Homo sapiens: one gene and its partners. The protein of the gene in region 3 interacts with the protein of the main gene of each other region in a biochemical or structural test. Each region holds a gene or a part of one and is shown on either strand. Other genes may lie near its edges.

Region 1 (3,500 bases), on a different chromosome or scaffold from region 3:
ATAAACTATCACTGGCCTATATCTTGGCCATATGAAAAATATATAAACACTTATTTTTATAAACTATGTTTTATCAAACAAAAATAATCATCATTATTACCACTGACACATGGATCTAACATAAACATTGGTAATTAAATAAGAATTGCAGAAAATGAGGTTTAAAAGCTTCCTTATTTTTATTCTTTTATTAAATTCCTCTGAAAATGATATGCAAAAGCTATTGTATTCTCCATGCTTGGTATGAGAATCAAGCAGAAAGATCTTCTATATGCCATATATTGCATTGGGAAAGCCAAAAAGCCAGCAGCTCAGGGAAATGAGAGTAGGAAAATGGTAAGAGACTTGCAATTACCCTCTTTTCAGTGTTGAGCACATCATTTAAATGAGATGCTTCACTGGAGAGATAAAATAAGCTAAGACTAGTCTTTTATTCTGTGAATTTAACTAGAGATAAAGTGAGTCTCTTATGTTCATAACGATAAAGTTAAGGTTTCCAACAGAGAATTATAAGCACCTAATTCTTTACTTTTTCAAGGACAAATGAAAAACATTTTGTTAGGAGATTTTTTTGTTATTATATATTCTTTTCAAAAAAAATGACCTTGGGACATTTTTATAAAATACATTCCAGAATAATAGAAAAGTGTTTTTCAGAAATTTTTAAAAATTCAATGCTCTGAATTGAGGTTTCCATTATAATCGTATGTGGCCATTTATCCTAGAGGAACATTTTCTATTAAAACGCAAGCTTGATGCGGATTGGGACACCATCTCCCTTGTCAGCAACCTAGCAACTCAAGCGTTGCCTGGTAACAGCATTTAATAGACATGTGCCAAACAATAAAGAAACATTTTGATATGTGGAGATTCCAAAGCTGCCATAATTACCATAGACAGTCAATTTTAAGAAAGTATATTAGATTTCCTTTTCAAATAAGGCGTTTGGACTGTTGGACATTACAACTTACCCTCTCTGTAGACCCTGTTAATGTCTCTGATTTCTTTGTTAGTTCTTGATGCCAAAATCTCAATTAGAGTATCTTCATCAGTTCCAAGGCCCTAAATTTGAAGAGAAGAAAAGGATAAATGTAGAAAAAAATCTTCATGCAAGAGGATCAATGAGTTTTTGGTGTTCCAAAATTTGTTTGACTCTGTCATTTAGTAAATTTCACCCACAACATTTAATAATTACAATAAGCTCTATTACATTGCCCTAAAACAAAACAAGTTTATCATCAATATTTTGGGTAAAAATAAAAATGCAAATATATGACTCATATAGTGACATGACATGGAAGGTGTTAGTGCCAACATTTCTGTTTTCATTTATATATTAATTCCTTCATTGAGGTATTAATTTATTTATTCTTCAAACTCCCACTGATTGACAGGTACTATACTAGATTTTGAAAATAACATAAGCATAAGTGACTTGCCCAATACATCCTCTTGAGGAAAGGAGTTTGCTCAAATTGGGCGATTTACCTTCATGGCAGCACGAAGTTCATCAGCATCAAATTGCGCTGGAGTTTTTAGCAGAGCTAAAACAACCTCCTCAAGGTGACCTGTAAGGGCTTTCTTCAGTGTTTCATCCAGGGGCTACAAAAAAAAAGATTAGAATCAGGACTTCCAATAAGTAACATGCTAGGTTAAAAAATGTGATATTACCTGACTTTAGGTCATCGTACAACTCATCCCTAAACCCAACCATCTTTTAGAGCTTCTTCCCTTCACATACAAAGTGTACCAAATATTTTGAAACATTATCTTACCCTTCCAGATCTAGAGGGATTAAAATAAAATTTACTGAATTCATCAATAACTTCTTAAAGCATAGGGTTAGTAATCTTATACACAGGGGAGAAATCACAAAGATCAAAACACAGAGGACTGTGTGCTAACAGAAAACAGAAGTAAAATTACTTTTAAAATAATATATTCATGTTTCCAATCTTTGAGGTTTGTACTTCTCAAATAACAAGCAGTATAATCAGATACTGAAATTATATAGTTTTCTAATTTCATTGCTTTAGAAAACTACTCATATTTGGTATAAAAGACATAAGGCTTATTTTTAAAGTAGAATTATATATAAAATTTAGGCATTAAACAGTTCAGTTTAAATATTAGTACATTTCAATCAGACCATATTCTTTATTGACAGCAGCAATCTCGATGTTTACGTTCAAATTAAAAATTTGTCCCCAGAGCACCACATCTGCAAACAATATACACCAAGATGACTAATGTATAAAAATAGGAAATTTGATAAAATTGATTAAATTGCAACAAAGTGGATAAACACTGCAATCCCAATCATAGATGTAATGAGAAAACAGTGGTTAGAACCTTAAAGAACTAGGTAACTGTGCTTCCGAATCCATGGTTAAGTATAACTATGCTGAAATTAAATATCTAAATTTACCACTCTAACTTACCTTTCCTGTTTCCTGGAGATATGCTGCTTTGATCTGTTGACGCTGTGCATTGTTTCGCTTAGTTAGAATGTCAATGATGGTTGCTTCATCCACACCTGGAAATAAAGGGCCAACAGCCTTTAACACCAATTTTCTTCATCATCAATTGACATAAAATAATTCATTACTGAGATGCTCCAAAAGAACTTCTTAACAAATTAAGAAATATAAATTATATATCAGCCTAAAAAATCGATGCTATACTACATATCAAGGAAGCACTTGGGAGAATGACATTTCATTCGAGTGAGAAAGGAAGAGACAATTAACTTTTCCTGGCCCTCAGTGTTGCAGTGTTTGATACTAGTTGCAACTCTATATGTGAACAGAGCTTTTAATTTCAGCATGGAATTTCTGCTAGAAATGAGCCAGTAATATCTGCTGTAACAATAGAGATTCCACTGATGTGAACACAATTTCCTCAGTGTTAAGTAAATAATTACATCTTCGTTTGGCAAAGAAATGTTTTTATCTTCAAAATGAAACAGATTCTTTCCATTGCACATGTCTGTTTTTTGACAGTCATTCAAATAGCCATTCTGAAATGTCCAGGAGGGAACTGTTTTGAGGAAACACGTTACCTTTAACCATTATGGCCTTATGCAAGGCAGCGACATCCGAGGATGGATTGAAGGTAGGATAGGGGCTCACCGCTGATCCGGGACCACCTTTGGATGACTTCACAGTTTGCTAAGAATGAGAGAGAAATAAATTAATGGCCATTTACTTATATTCGTTTTTATTTCAATATTGTAATCATAATTTTATTATCACTCTACTTACAACATATTCCTGCTCTTCATTTTCAATAAACCAGGCCTGCTTGAGGAATTCTGATACCATTGCCATTTTTGAAAAAGTGTCTGGAAAGAAAACAGTTAGATGCTTTTACAAAACAAATGCACCACACACAACCTCTCCTTCCTCACCTCTTACATACATAAGAGTTAGCATTAGAGAGTAGCCTTGCGCTTACTTTCCAGGATCAATTACACTTAGGAGCATAACAAAATGTAAGAC
Region 2 (3,500 bases), on a different chromosome or scaffold from region 3:
TCTATCCAGTCGAACACCCGCTGGTTACTGCTGCCCTCCTTCAGCAGCTTCTCCAGCTGCCTGTTCAGCTCCTCGGAGGGGAGTGCCCTCTGGCCAGGGGCTTCCGACTCCTCTCCCAGGGTATACTCCACCTTCTGCAATGGAAAAGGCCCGCAGTTAAGAGGTAAGGTTGCCAACAGGAGACAAGAAAGAAGACTGGCCAGCCTCAAATGCTAGAATTAACCCAACTCCATCCCCAAACCTGTTCAGCGACGAATGCACCAATGTCCTGGCCTTCAGGTAGAAATTCCTTCCAGCTAAGCCCGGCTTCTCGCCACAGCGTCCCCACCTTTTTAGGACCCTGGAAAACACAAGACCAACCCAGCTTACCAAAGCTCTCTCTCTCCAAGGACCCAACAGCTCTACCACATTAATCCAACAAATATTTACTGAAAGCCTACTAGGTACTTGCTAGGCATTAAGGATGCTATAGAAATACTAATAGGCAAAGCCCTTCCATTCCTACGGTCTGGTGCAGGGCACAGATGTCAGTCAAATAACCACCCAAATAAATAAGAACTCGTCCCAGGAGCGGGCGGTGGCTCACGCCTGTAATCCTAGCACTCTGAAAGGTCGAGGTGGGCGGATCACCTGAGGTCAGGAGTCGGAGACCAGCCTGACCAACATGGTGAAACCCCGTCTCTACAGAAAATACAAAAATTAGCCAGGCGTGGTGGTGGGTGCCTGTAATCCCAGCTACTCGGGAGGCTGAGGCAGGAGAATCGCTTGAACCCAAGGCGAGGGTTGCAATGAGCTGAGATCACGCCACTGCACTCCAGCCTGGGCGACACAGCGAGACTCTGTCTCAAAAAAATAATAATAATAAAATAAAATAAAAGAGAACTTGTCCACCAAAGTGCTATGACACTAGGGTAGGAAAAATGATGTAAGGGCCTCTAGGAAGGGACAACTTCTAACAAGTATGCTTGTTTCCTAAACCCAGAAAATCTTAAGACACAAATATACCCCATCCCTAACACAAATAAAAAATCCTCATAAAACCAGCAGTCTGAGTGCATTTTCTGTAAGGGGCAATAGACTATGAAGACATCACTCTTTTCTTTATAACAGACTAATGGCACTGGCTCTTAGCAAGATTATTGCAGTTCACAGATTTTAAAACATGCCCATTTTTTCACATTTTAACTAAAAGTTGTCTTACAGCCGATATATATCTTTTTTTATTTTGAGACAGAGTCTTGCTCTGTCGCCCAGGCTGGAGTGCAGTGGCACAATCTTGGCTTACTGCAACCTCCCCCTCCTGGGTTCAAGCAATTCTCCTGCCTCAGCCTCCCAAGTAGCTGGGACTACAGGTGCGCACCACCATGTCCAGCTAATTTTTTTGTATTTTTAGTAGATACAGGGTTTCATCATGTTGGCCAGGCTGGTTTCCAACTCCTGACCTCACGTGATCCACCCACCTCTGCCTCCCAAAGTGCTGGGATTACCACGCCCGGCCCAGTCTTTTCTTTCTTAACAGCGCATAAAGAATGTCTTATAATCTATGGCACCTTGGAGTTGATGAAATACACAAATAGTTCAATATGCTTATTTGTTGTTAAAAAACAACTTGTCCTGGTACACGTCTATTTAAAAGAATTAAATGATGTTGACATAACAATTCCTTTAAATCCCAAGTGTGATTCCTCCAGGTTCCAGATGGCTGAACCCTTGAAACTGCACACACTCACCCCAACTTCTCACTTCCACTAAGTACCACATTCAACTTACCTTTCCCCATCTCTTTACCTTTATATTCGCTAGTTACCAATTAACTTTCACAAAGCCGCTTCAGCACCCTGAAAGCCTCCTGTCACAAATATTGTCAAATATTCCTTTGCAACCCCACAGTACTTAAGATACTCCACTCTATTTCAACTGTTTTATGTCACGCTTTACTGTTGTTTTTATCAAGCTGTCATTTCTTTTTTCTTTTTTGGAGACAGAGTCTTGCTCTGTTTCCCAGGCTGGAGTGCAGTGGCACAATCTCGGCTCACTGCTACCTCCGCCTCCCGGGTCAAGTGATTCTCCTGCCTCAGCCTCCTGAGTAGGTGGAATTACAGGCACCTGCCACAACACGGCTAATTTTTGTGTTTTTAGTAGAGATGGGGTTTCACCATATTGGCCAAGCTGGTCTTGAACTCCTGACCTCGTGATCCACCCACGTCGGCCTCTCAAAGTGCTGGGATTACAGGCGTGAGCCACTGCGCCCGGCCCATTTCTTCCTTTTTCTCTACCAACTTGTTTCTTGTGTTTTATTCATTGCTGTGTCCCTAGTGCTTAGTATATGATAAATGATCATCAACAAAACCCTAGTTCAATGAATGAATAAATAAATGCATCAATCACAGGCCTAGGGTCTTAGACTGCCATTCTCCTCCAGTCTTGGCCAGAACTCATGATAGGAACTGGTGTGCGGGAGATGGCCCACCTCAGTATTTCCTCTCCCAGGTACCAACACAATCCTGTCATCACCATCACTCCACTCCACCAATGGACCATGAAGCTTCAGGGCCACAGCAAACAGCCAAAACCACACCGTGGGAGGCATCTCTGGACTCCTGGCCCTCACTCACCATGCTTTTGCACAGGAGGCCCAGGATCTCCAGCAACAGGGAAGCAGCTTTGCCCAACGGTCTCAGAGGCTTTGTAATCTCCCTACAAGAAGAGAAAAACCTAATGCTGACAGCCTCCACAGTTCTCTCACCACTACTCCATCTCCCTCCAAACCAGGGTATCCAACCCAGCCATTTCCCTACCACCTTTCCTCTGGTCTTTACCTCCCCTGAATTCCACCCAGGGGGACTTACCTGAACAGCTCCCCCATGGGCACCCCACCTTCCTGCAGAATGGGTGTTACCAGTTCCGCTAGGTAGAGCCACACGTGGGGGATGTCAATTTCCATGTCCTCAGCCAATTCCAAGATTTCATACAACCTGCCAAGGGAATTCAAAGTCAAGACATTCTAGGCCAGGTCCCCACTCTCCTTCTGGGGCAACGTGGCATGGCTAGGGCATCAACTATGGAACCCCCAGGAACATTTTCTAGACATGGGGACAATTATTTCAAGCTAAGGCCACCTCTGTGTCCTTAGATGGTTTTCACCCCGCTTAACCCCCTAAAGTTATGCTGACCAGGATGGTCAAGGAACCCATACTGTTTTTTGGTTTTTTTTTTGAGACAGTTTTGCTTTTGTCACCCAGGCTGGAGTGCAATGGCACGATCTCGGCTCACTGCAACCTCCACCTCCCGGGTTCAAGCAGTTCTCCTGCCTCAGCCTCCGAGTAGCTGGGATTACTGTGCCACCACGCCTGGCTAATTTTTGTATTATTAGTAGAGACAGGGTTTCACCATGTTGGCCAGGCTGGTCTAGAACTCCCAACCTCACGTGATCCTCTAAGGAATCCAACCCACCTTGGCCTCCCAAAGTGCAGGGATTACAGGCATAAGCCACCACACCC
Region 3 (3,860 bases):
AAAAAGCTAATAATCACTGGAACTCATACTTACTTTTCTGGCTTCCTCGTAGATCTGTACTGCCAACTCTCTCGTTGGTGCTAATACCAAGGAGATTGGGTATTGTTTGCGGCGCCCATACCTTCCATTTTCCTAAGAAATAAGTTAATTTTTAAGTTAACTCTACCTACCCTGTTTGAAAAGTTCATCACAACATAATTCCCTTTTGTAATTTATAGATTACAGATTACACTTGAAAACTGGTTTTCATTCTACTTAAGTCTTAGCATCATTTAGAAAGCCCTCTCAATGGCCACCTACAAAGTTCTACAATTTCCCATTTTATAAAGAAACATCTACCTTCATGGCCCTCAAAGCCTCGCCTGGACCATCTGAATAAATCTGACTCAAGATGGGCAACAGAAATGCTGCAGTTTTTCCAGACCCTGTTCAAAAACAAACAAACAAATCCTGCTCATTACTTTTAAACAGACATTGGTAGATGACAGTGTTTTTTAACTACCCTATTACTAATAATTAGTACTTTTAGTTTATGCTTAAGTTTTCCAAAAAGTGGCTTCTCTGCTCCACCTCTAAGAGGAGTCAGCAAACTGAGACTATTTTGTAAATAAAGCCTGTTATTTTTATAAATAAAGCTCTTACGGAATACAGCCGTAACCAATAATTTATGTATCATCTATGGCTTCTTTCACAGTCCAATAGCAGCGCAGAGCAGCTGCAAAACTGCATGACCCATAAAAAATAAAATATTTTATTGTCTAGTCCTTTACAGAAGAAATATGATGTTTTACTCTTATGAGTTGAGCTTACCTGTTTGGGCACAAGCCATCAAGTCTCTTTTCTCTTTGATAATAGGAATAGCATGCTTTTGCACTGGAGTTGGGCGAGTATAACGAGTAAGCTCAATGTTTCCCATGATAATTTCTCCCATCTCAACATCACTGAACTGTTAAGAAATTCAATGGGGTTAGGAATGCTATCTAGAGCTATTTCTGTTTTATACTAATAATGGAAACAACCAACCAACAGCTGATTGGTAACTCAGTTTATAGTTTAAGTAAAATTATCACATTATACTTTGAGAAAAACCAACCCCCAGGCTTACTGCACATTGGAGAAGACTTTGGGTTGTTCCTATGTTTGACCCATTTTCTATTTTAGGTAATAAATTATTCATAATGGTGACACTGAACTCAACTTCTCCTTTTCCACAAATCTATGAAGCCTCTGGTCTACATGACTTTATGAAGCCCATCTCACATTCTAATGTAACATGAAAACATTTAACCTCTCTGTGTCTTAAAAAGTCAAGCAAAAATACTCACACTTTCAATATGTGGAGGACAGTTGTTGCCTGTTGCCTCAACTGGAATGTCATCGTATTTCTCAAAATTAATCCCAGTGTTGCCTCCAGAAAAGAGTTCCCTCAAATCAAAAAATGGATAAGTTCATTTGTTATACTAGCTAGTAAGGCTTCATCACAAGTAACATACACTTCAAAAACTTACTGTTCCAAGCGTTCACTTGGTGGGAGTGGTTTTGACCAATCATCTTCATCTGATTTGTCACACCAGCGACTGTTTCCACCACGTTCAAATTTGCCAAAGCCACTTCTGTCACCACGGCTGCCAATGCCATCGTAATCACTCCGTCCACGATCATCAAACCTGAACAGCACAAGCAATTAATCAGAATCATATCATTTAACCATTATCAGATTCTTATCCCTACTCTAGAACTGTATCTGGAGACTTAAGTTATGGCTAACCATAAGGATGTCAACAATCCAATTCTGAGTTACTTGACAAATAAGGCTCTCTAACCAGCATCATTTACATAACCTCGTTTTCTAAAATCAGTAATCTTTACATTTCTATAAAGTTGTATAGCCTAAAAGGCCTCACAGATGCCAAAATTAAGAATAAGGATTTTATTTGAAATCGGCACACAGCTCACAACCTTCATTTAAAGTGCTCATCCAAATATATTTAATGGTAGGGAAAACAAGAAAATAGCACACCAAATATCAATCGTCCTAGTTATACTAGGATGTCACTTAAAGGACAATTCACCTGTGTGACAGACTTTGGATAAAAGGTAGAAAATAATCCTTACCTGAACTAAGATGTTTTTAAGAGTTTTAGGCCTGTTTGCGAAAAATCAGGACACAGGACTAACCACAGCTATTAGGCACGTGGGGTCAGTTCACCACACTTGTGTAATCAAAAATACAAGGTGTTTAGAAATTGTTATAGAGTCCACAAAAATCCCAACCAAATTAGGCCATTCACTAGATGAACTTACTCTTTTAAGTAGAACATATAAAACTCGAGAAATAGAATAACTCATTTCATTATGCCAATGAGCATATTCCTATTTTCATCTAATTTCTAAGTAACAGGTTCAATTTAGTAAAAGCCTCTTACGGCTAAGAAAATACAATGACCAAACAGACATAATGCTTAACATCCAAACAGGTGGTCAGGATAACGACTTATTAAACTGTTATTATACATACACGTAAGGTGATTAAGAAATCACTTACCTTCCCCTTGATCCACTTCCACGATCACTGAAGAAGCTAGACTTCCCTCTTGAATCACTACGAGATCCAAAACTGCTATACGCATCCTTATCTTTGCTAGAACTCCACCCTGAACTGTCTTTATCGTAGAAACCTTTGATTAAAAAAGCACAAATACATTTTATTATTAATTAGAAATAGGAACCATGTTAAGGTATTATCAATCTTTCTGAATTTGAAAGCCTCCACTGACTATCCCTACCATGGCACTGTAAGAGAACCAAGATTTAAAGCTGGTTTACACCCGGACAAAGTTTTTCTTTAATTCTCCCCACTAGAAAATACTGTCCACTGGCCAGGCATGGTGGCTCACGCCTGTAATCCCAGCACTTTGGGAGGCCAAGGCGGGCAGGTCACCTGAGGTCAGGAGTTCGAGACTAGCCTGACCAACATGGAGAAACCCCGTCTCTACTACATATACAATATTAGCCAGGCGTGGTGGCCCACGTCTGTAATCCCAGCTACTCAGGAGGCTGAGGCAGGAGAATCACTTGAACCCGGGAGGCTGAGGTTGCAGTGAGCCAAGATTGCGCCACTGCACTCCAGCACGGGAAACAAGAGTGAAACACCCTTGTCTCAAAAAAAAAAAAATTACTTTACACTAAATCAAGCAATCTGACAGTCTAAGAATGTTTCTCAATGAATACTACCTCTAAGTGGTCAACAGCTTTGCCTGTAACGCATTATGACGTTGTGTGACCATAACAATTTAATTTCCATTCATTTTATAGGTGTGAATGAGTTTACTAGGAAAAACAGTTACCATTGTTTCCATGTTTCTTGGAGGTGGTATTCATTTAGAACATTCATAGACTGTCAGATTACTTGGTTTAATACAGTATTTTTCAGTTTCAATAGTATAAAGTACAAGAACACTAATGTCAAATTGTAGTATTATTTTAGTGGTTCATCTACTATAAGCTTGATGACAATCAGGAATACCTGGGAAAAAGAAAAACCCTCATCACTATATATTCTCAGTATAGACAAGGTTCCTGGGTACAGCTATAAATATCCAGGTAAGGGGATGACAAACATGTAAATTAACCCAAAGACAGGTAGAGGGTTTAAAGACAGGTAGAGGGTTTAACTAGCTTCAGCAACACCTTATTAAACAGAAACAGCTTCTCAATTCAGTTACTTTCCTTCTGCCTTCTACCTCCTACCGTTAGGCCAGTCAGGTGACCAACAGCCTTTGCTAGCAAGAAAGAGTTAAGTTAGATTGCCAGATCTCTACCAGCTCTAAAACCTCTATGATACTGCCATATACACGAGG
Region 4 (3,500 bases), on a different chromosome or scaffold from region 3:
AATTGGCTTGTCAGATGGTGACAGGCGCTGGGGAAGAGTTTAGGGATTGCTGAGGAGGGGCGGAGGTAGCCTGTGGTTTTAAAATGGGTGTTCAGGGAAGGCTTCACTGAGGCTGTGACATTTGGTCAAAGATCTGAAAGGCTGGGCCGGACGCAGTGGCTCATGCCTGTAATCCCAGCACTTTGGGAGGCCGAAGTGGGCGGATCACGAGGTCAGGAGTTTGAGATCAGCCTGACCAACATGGTGAAGCCCCGTCTCTACTAAAAATACAAAAATTACCTGGGCGTGGTGGTGGGCACCTGTAATCACAGCTACTCAGGAGGCTGAGGCAGGAGAATCACTTGAACCCGAGAGGCAGAGGTTGCAGTGAGCCAAGATTGTGCCATTGCACTCCAGCCTGGGCAACAAGAGCAAGATTCTGTCTCAAAAACAAACAAACAGACAAACAACCCCCAAAAAACAAAGATCTGAAAGGCTGAGGGGCCCAGGGGAAAGGCTCCCATAGTGATCCAGGACAGGGCATTATGAGGGCTGGCAGAGGGACCAGTGCCCAAGGGGAGCTACTTCATGGAAATTGTCACCAAGATGTAGCTTCATCTGGCCAGAGAAGCCATGAATTGCAGCCGAGCGCCCTCCCTCTGTGACCTGCCTTCCAGTGCCATGCCCTGTAGGGCTGGTTCTGCAGCTTATTTGCTCCTGTCCTCACAGTCCCTAGTATGGGGTGGGCTTGGGGGCTGGTTGAGCTGAGTGATTTATGGGAATAGGAACACAGCCGGAGGAGCTTACAGTGATGGGGCTTGGGATGGAAGTGCGGCCGGAGAGGGGCAGTCAGTGATCAGTGTCCAAAACACACGAGCCGGTCCCACTCTAGTGGTGTTCCTGGCACAGTAAGCCCCGGGTGGATGAGCTGGGGGGTGGGGAGGCACAGAGAGCCATTGTGTGGAGGCCTTGCTGGTGGGACCGAGGGCAGGCGCCAGCTGTGCCATCCCAGAAAGCTCAGGGCAGGGGATATAGGGATGGGGTGGGCCTCAGACCTGGGCCTGGACTGTGATGGGGATGATAGTGCTGGGACAGAAGTTGAACCCAGTCATTCTCATAGGATAGAGAGCCATGGGTGCTAGCCTGCTTAGTGCAGGGAGATGAGGAGGCACAGGGCATAGCCCTGGGGCAGAAGCAGTGATGCTGCTGTTCTGGACCAGAGGCTCAACAGCATCTCCCCTCCGCACCCCACAGGAGCTGCCAAGGCCATGTCTGTTCCATCATCACTGAGCCAGTCGGCCATTAATGCCAACAGCCACGGAGGCCCCGCACTGAGCCTACCCCTGCCTCTGCACGCTGCCCACAACCAGCTGCTCAACGCCAAGCTGCAGGCCACAGCTGTGGGACCCAAGGACCTGCGCAGCGCCATGGGGGAGGGTGGTGGGCCTGAGCCAGGCCCTGCCAATGCCAAGTGGCTAAAAGAGGGCCAGAACCAGCTCCGGCGGGCCGCCACGGCCCACCGTGACCAGAATCGCAATGTGACCTTGACCTTGGCGGAGGAGGCCAGCCAGGAGCCTGAGATGGCACCCTTGGGCCCCAAAGGCCTGATACACCTGTACTCTGAGCTGGAGCTCTCAGCTCACAACGCAGCCAACCGAGGCCTACGAGGACCTGGCCTGATCATCAGCACTCAAGAGCAGGGGCCAGATGAGGGAGAGGAGAAGGCGGCCGGGGAGGCCGAGGAGGAGGAGGAGGATGATGATGATGAAGAGGAGGAGGAGGACTTATCTTCTCCCCCAGGGCTGCCTGAGCCCCTGGAGAGTGTGGAGGCCCCTCCCAGGCCCCAAGCCCTTACAGATGGCCCCCGGGAACACAGCAAGAGTGCCAGCCTCCTGTTTGGCATGCGGAACAGTGCAGCCAGTGATGAGGACTCAAGCTGGGCTACCTTATCCCAGGGCAGCCCCTCCTATGGCTCCCCAGAGGACACAGGTACCTTGTGGAGCTTGACATGGGCATGTGGGAGGGTGTGAGGGCAGAGGTTAGGACTCTCATACAGAGGCCAGTGCCAGCCTGATGTGAGCTGAGAGCCCATACCCTGAGGCCACAGCAGGCCATGTCCAGGCTTTTTCATTCAGAGAGTGCTTGGACATTCTGGTAGATCTGACCATCATGCATGCCCGGATGGATGGATCTATTCATTATGCATGCCACCATGGTTGATAAGTGGACTAGTTTACTGGGCACTGACTAGGTAACTGGCCCTCTGCTCAGCATTTTCAGGCTTTATCCTTACAATAAAGCTGTGAGGTAAATATTATGATGATTCCCATATTACAGATAACAAAAAAGAGATCCAGAGAGGTTTAGTAGCTTTCTCGAGACCACAGACAGGCTGAGATTACAATAGAGCTGAAATCTAAACCAGGTCTCAGTCCAGGCCTGAGCTCTTGGCCCCGTGTTATGCTGCCGCCAATGCATAGAGCACAATGCACTCAGGTGCACTTGGGACAGTCGGCCCCGTTTTTTTTTTTTTTGAGACAGAGTCTCACTCTGTCGCCAGTCTGCCCCGTTTTAACAGGTCACGCCTGTTGGGAGCAGCCAGCAGCTCCCCACAGAGGTCTGTTTGGAAAGACTGGGAATGTTGTGTGCTTATAATCCACATGCTCCAGCACCATTGCAAGGATACAGTTTTGTCAGGAGTAGGATATTGACTAAAAGTTAGAAAAGAAAACCCTTTGGGTAGGGGGAGGAGAATAGATACTAGGACTCCAGGGCTTAATCATTAAATATGTCCATTTAAATTAAGCTGAGTCTCCACATTTTCTAATGTCGTGTAGCGAATACAGGAAAAGCTGAGGAACAAAGAGTGGAGATAATGGGCTATAGTTACAACCAAAACCCTGGAGTTTTGTAGATGGAGGTCTAAGAAAGATTAGGAAAGACCCCTATCCTTACCAGGTGGCGGACACAATACCCATACCCCAAACTGTGCAATCTTTGTGGAGAACATGCAGTTCAGATGAGCCTAGGGCTGCACACCATCCCCTTTCGAAAAACTCATTCTGGACATTTTCAAACATACACAAAAATAGAGAGAAAAGAATAATGAGCCTGATTTACCCACGAGCCAGTTTTACCAATTATCAATACATAACTAATCTTGCTACCTGCATGCTCTCTTCCGTTCCTAGGCCCAGCGTAGGTTATTCTGAAGCAAATACTTTTATCTATAAATGTTTACAGCTGGGTGCAGTGGCTCACACCTGTAATCCCAGCATTTTAGAAGGCTAAAATGGGTAGATTGCTTGAGCCCAAGAGTTCAAGACCAGTCTGAGCAACATGGCAAAACCTCTCCTCTATAAAAAAGACAAAAAAATTAGCCGGGAGTGGAGGCATCAGCCACTGTGGTCTCAGCTACTCAGGTGACTGACCTGAGAGGATCATCCGAACCCAAGAAAGTCGAGACTACAGTGAGCCATGATTGAGCCACTGCATTCCAGCCTGGATGGCAGAGAGAGACC

Evidence for each region. Proteins that work in one complex are often made in the same cells at the same time.
Region 1: the proteins of DDX3X (region 3) and ANXA1 interact in a test that uses a peptide from one of them, tested with the Homo sapiens proteins (one large-scale study listed by BioGRID).
Region 2: the proteins of DDX3X (region 3) and EIF4G1 form a complex in vitro, tested with the Homo sapiens proteins (one study listed by IntAct).
Region 4: the proteins of DDX3X (region 3) and APBB1 form a complex in vitro, tested with the Homo sapiens proteins (one study listed by BioGRID).

The regions. Positions count from the first base shown.
Region 1 is NC_000009.12:73,158,365-73,161,864, reverse strand, and holds part of ANXA1 (annexin A1), read right to left. Parts: intron 3,344-3,500; coding exon of another isoform or gene 3,330-3,343; coding exon 3,264-3,329; intron 3,171-3,263; coding exon 3,062-3,170; intron 2,537-3,061; coding exon 2,442-2,536; intron 1,603-2,441; coding exon 1,489-1,602; intron 1,063-1,488; coding exon 972-1,062; intron 1-971. UniProt on the Homo sapiens protein: Plays important roles in the innate immune response as effector of glucocorticoid-mediated responses and regulator of the inflammatory process. Has anti-inflammatory activity.
Region 2 is NC_000003.12:184,328,106-184,331,605, reverse strand, and holds part of EIF4G1 (eukaryotic translation initiation factor 4 gamma 1), read right to left. Parts: intron 2,976-3,500; coding exon 2,850-2,975; intron 2,698-2,849; coding exon 2,616-2,697; intron 341-2,615; coding exon 242-340; intron 135-241; coding exon 1-134.
Region 3 is NC_000023.11:41,340,302-41,344,161, reverse strand, and holds part of DDX3X (ATP-dependent RNA helicase DDX3X), read right to left. Parts: intron 2,679-3,860; coding exon 2,546-2,678; intron 1,668-2,545; coding exon 1,509-1,667; intron 1,426-1,508; coding exon 1,326-1,425; intron 947-1,325; coding exon 811-946; intron 426-810; coding exon 340-425; intron 133-339; coding exon 34-132; intron 1-33. UniProt on the Homo sapiens protein: Multifunctional ATP-dependent RNA helicase. The ATPase activity can be stimulated by various ribo-and deoxynucleic acids indicative for a relaxed substrate specificity.
Region 4 is NC_000011.10:6,409,095-6,412,594, reverse strand, and holds part of APBB1 (amyloid beta precursor protein binding family B member 1), read left to right. Parts: intron 1-1,233; 5' UTR 1,234-1,247; coding exon 1,248-1,968; intron 1,969-3,500. UniProt on the Homo sapiens protein: Transcription coregulator that can have both coactivator and corepressor functions. Adapter protein that forms a transcriptionally active complex with the gamma-secretase-derived amyloid precursor protein (APP) intracellular domain.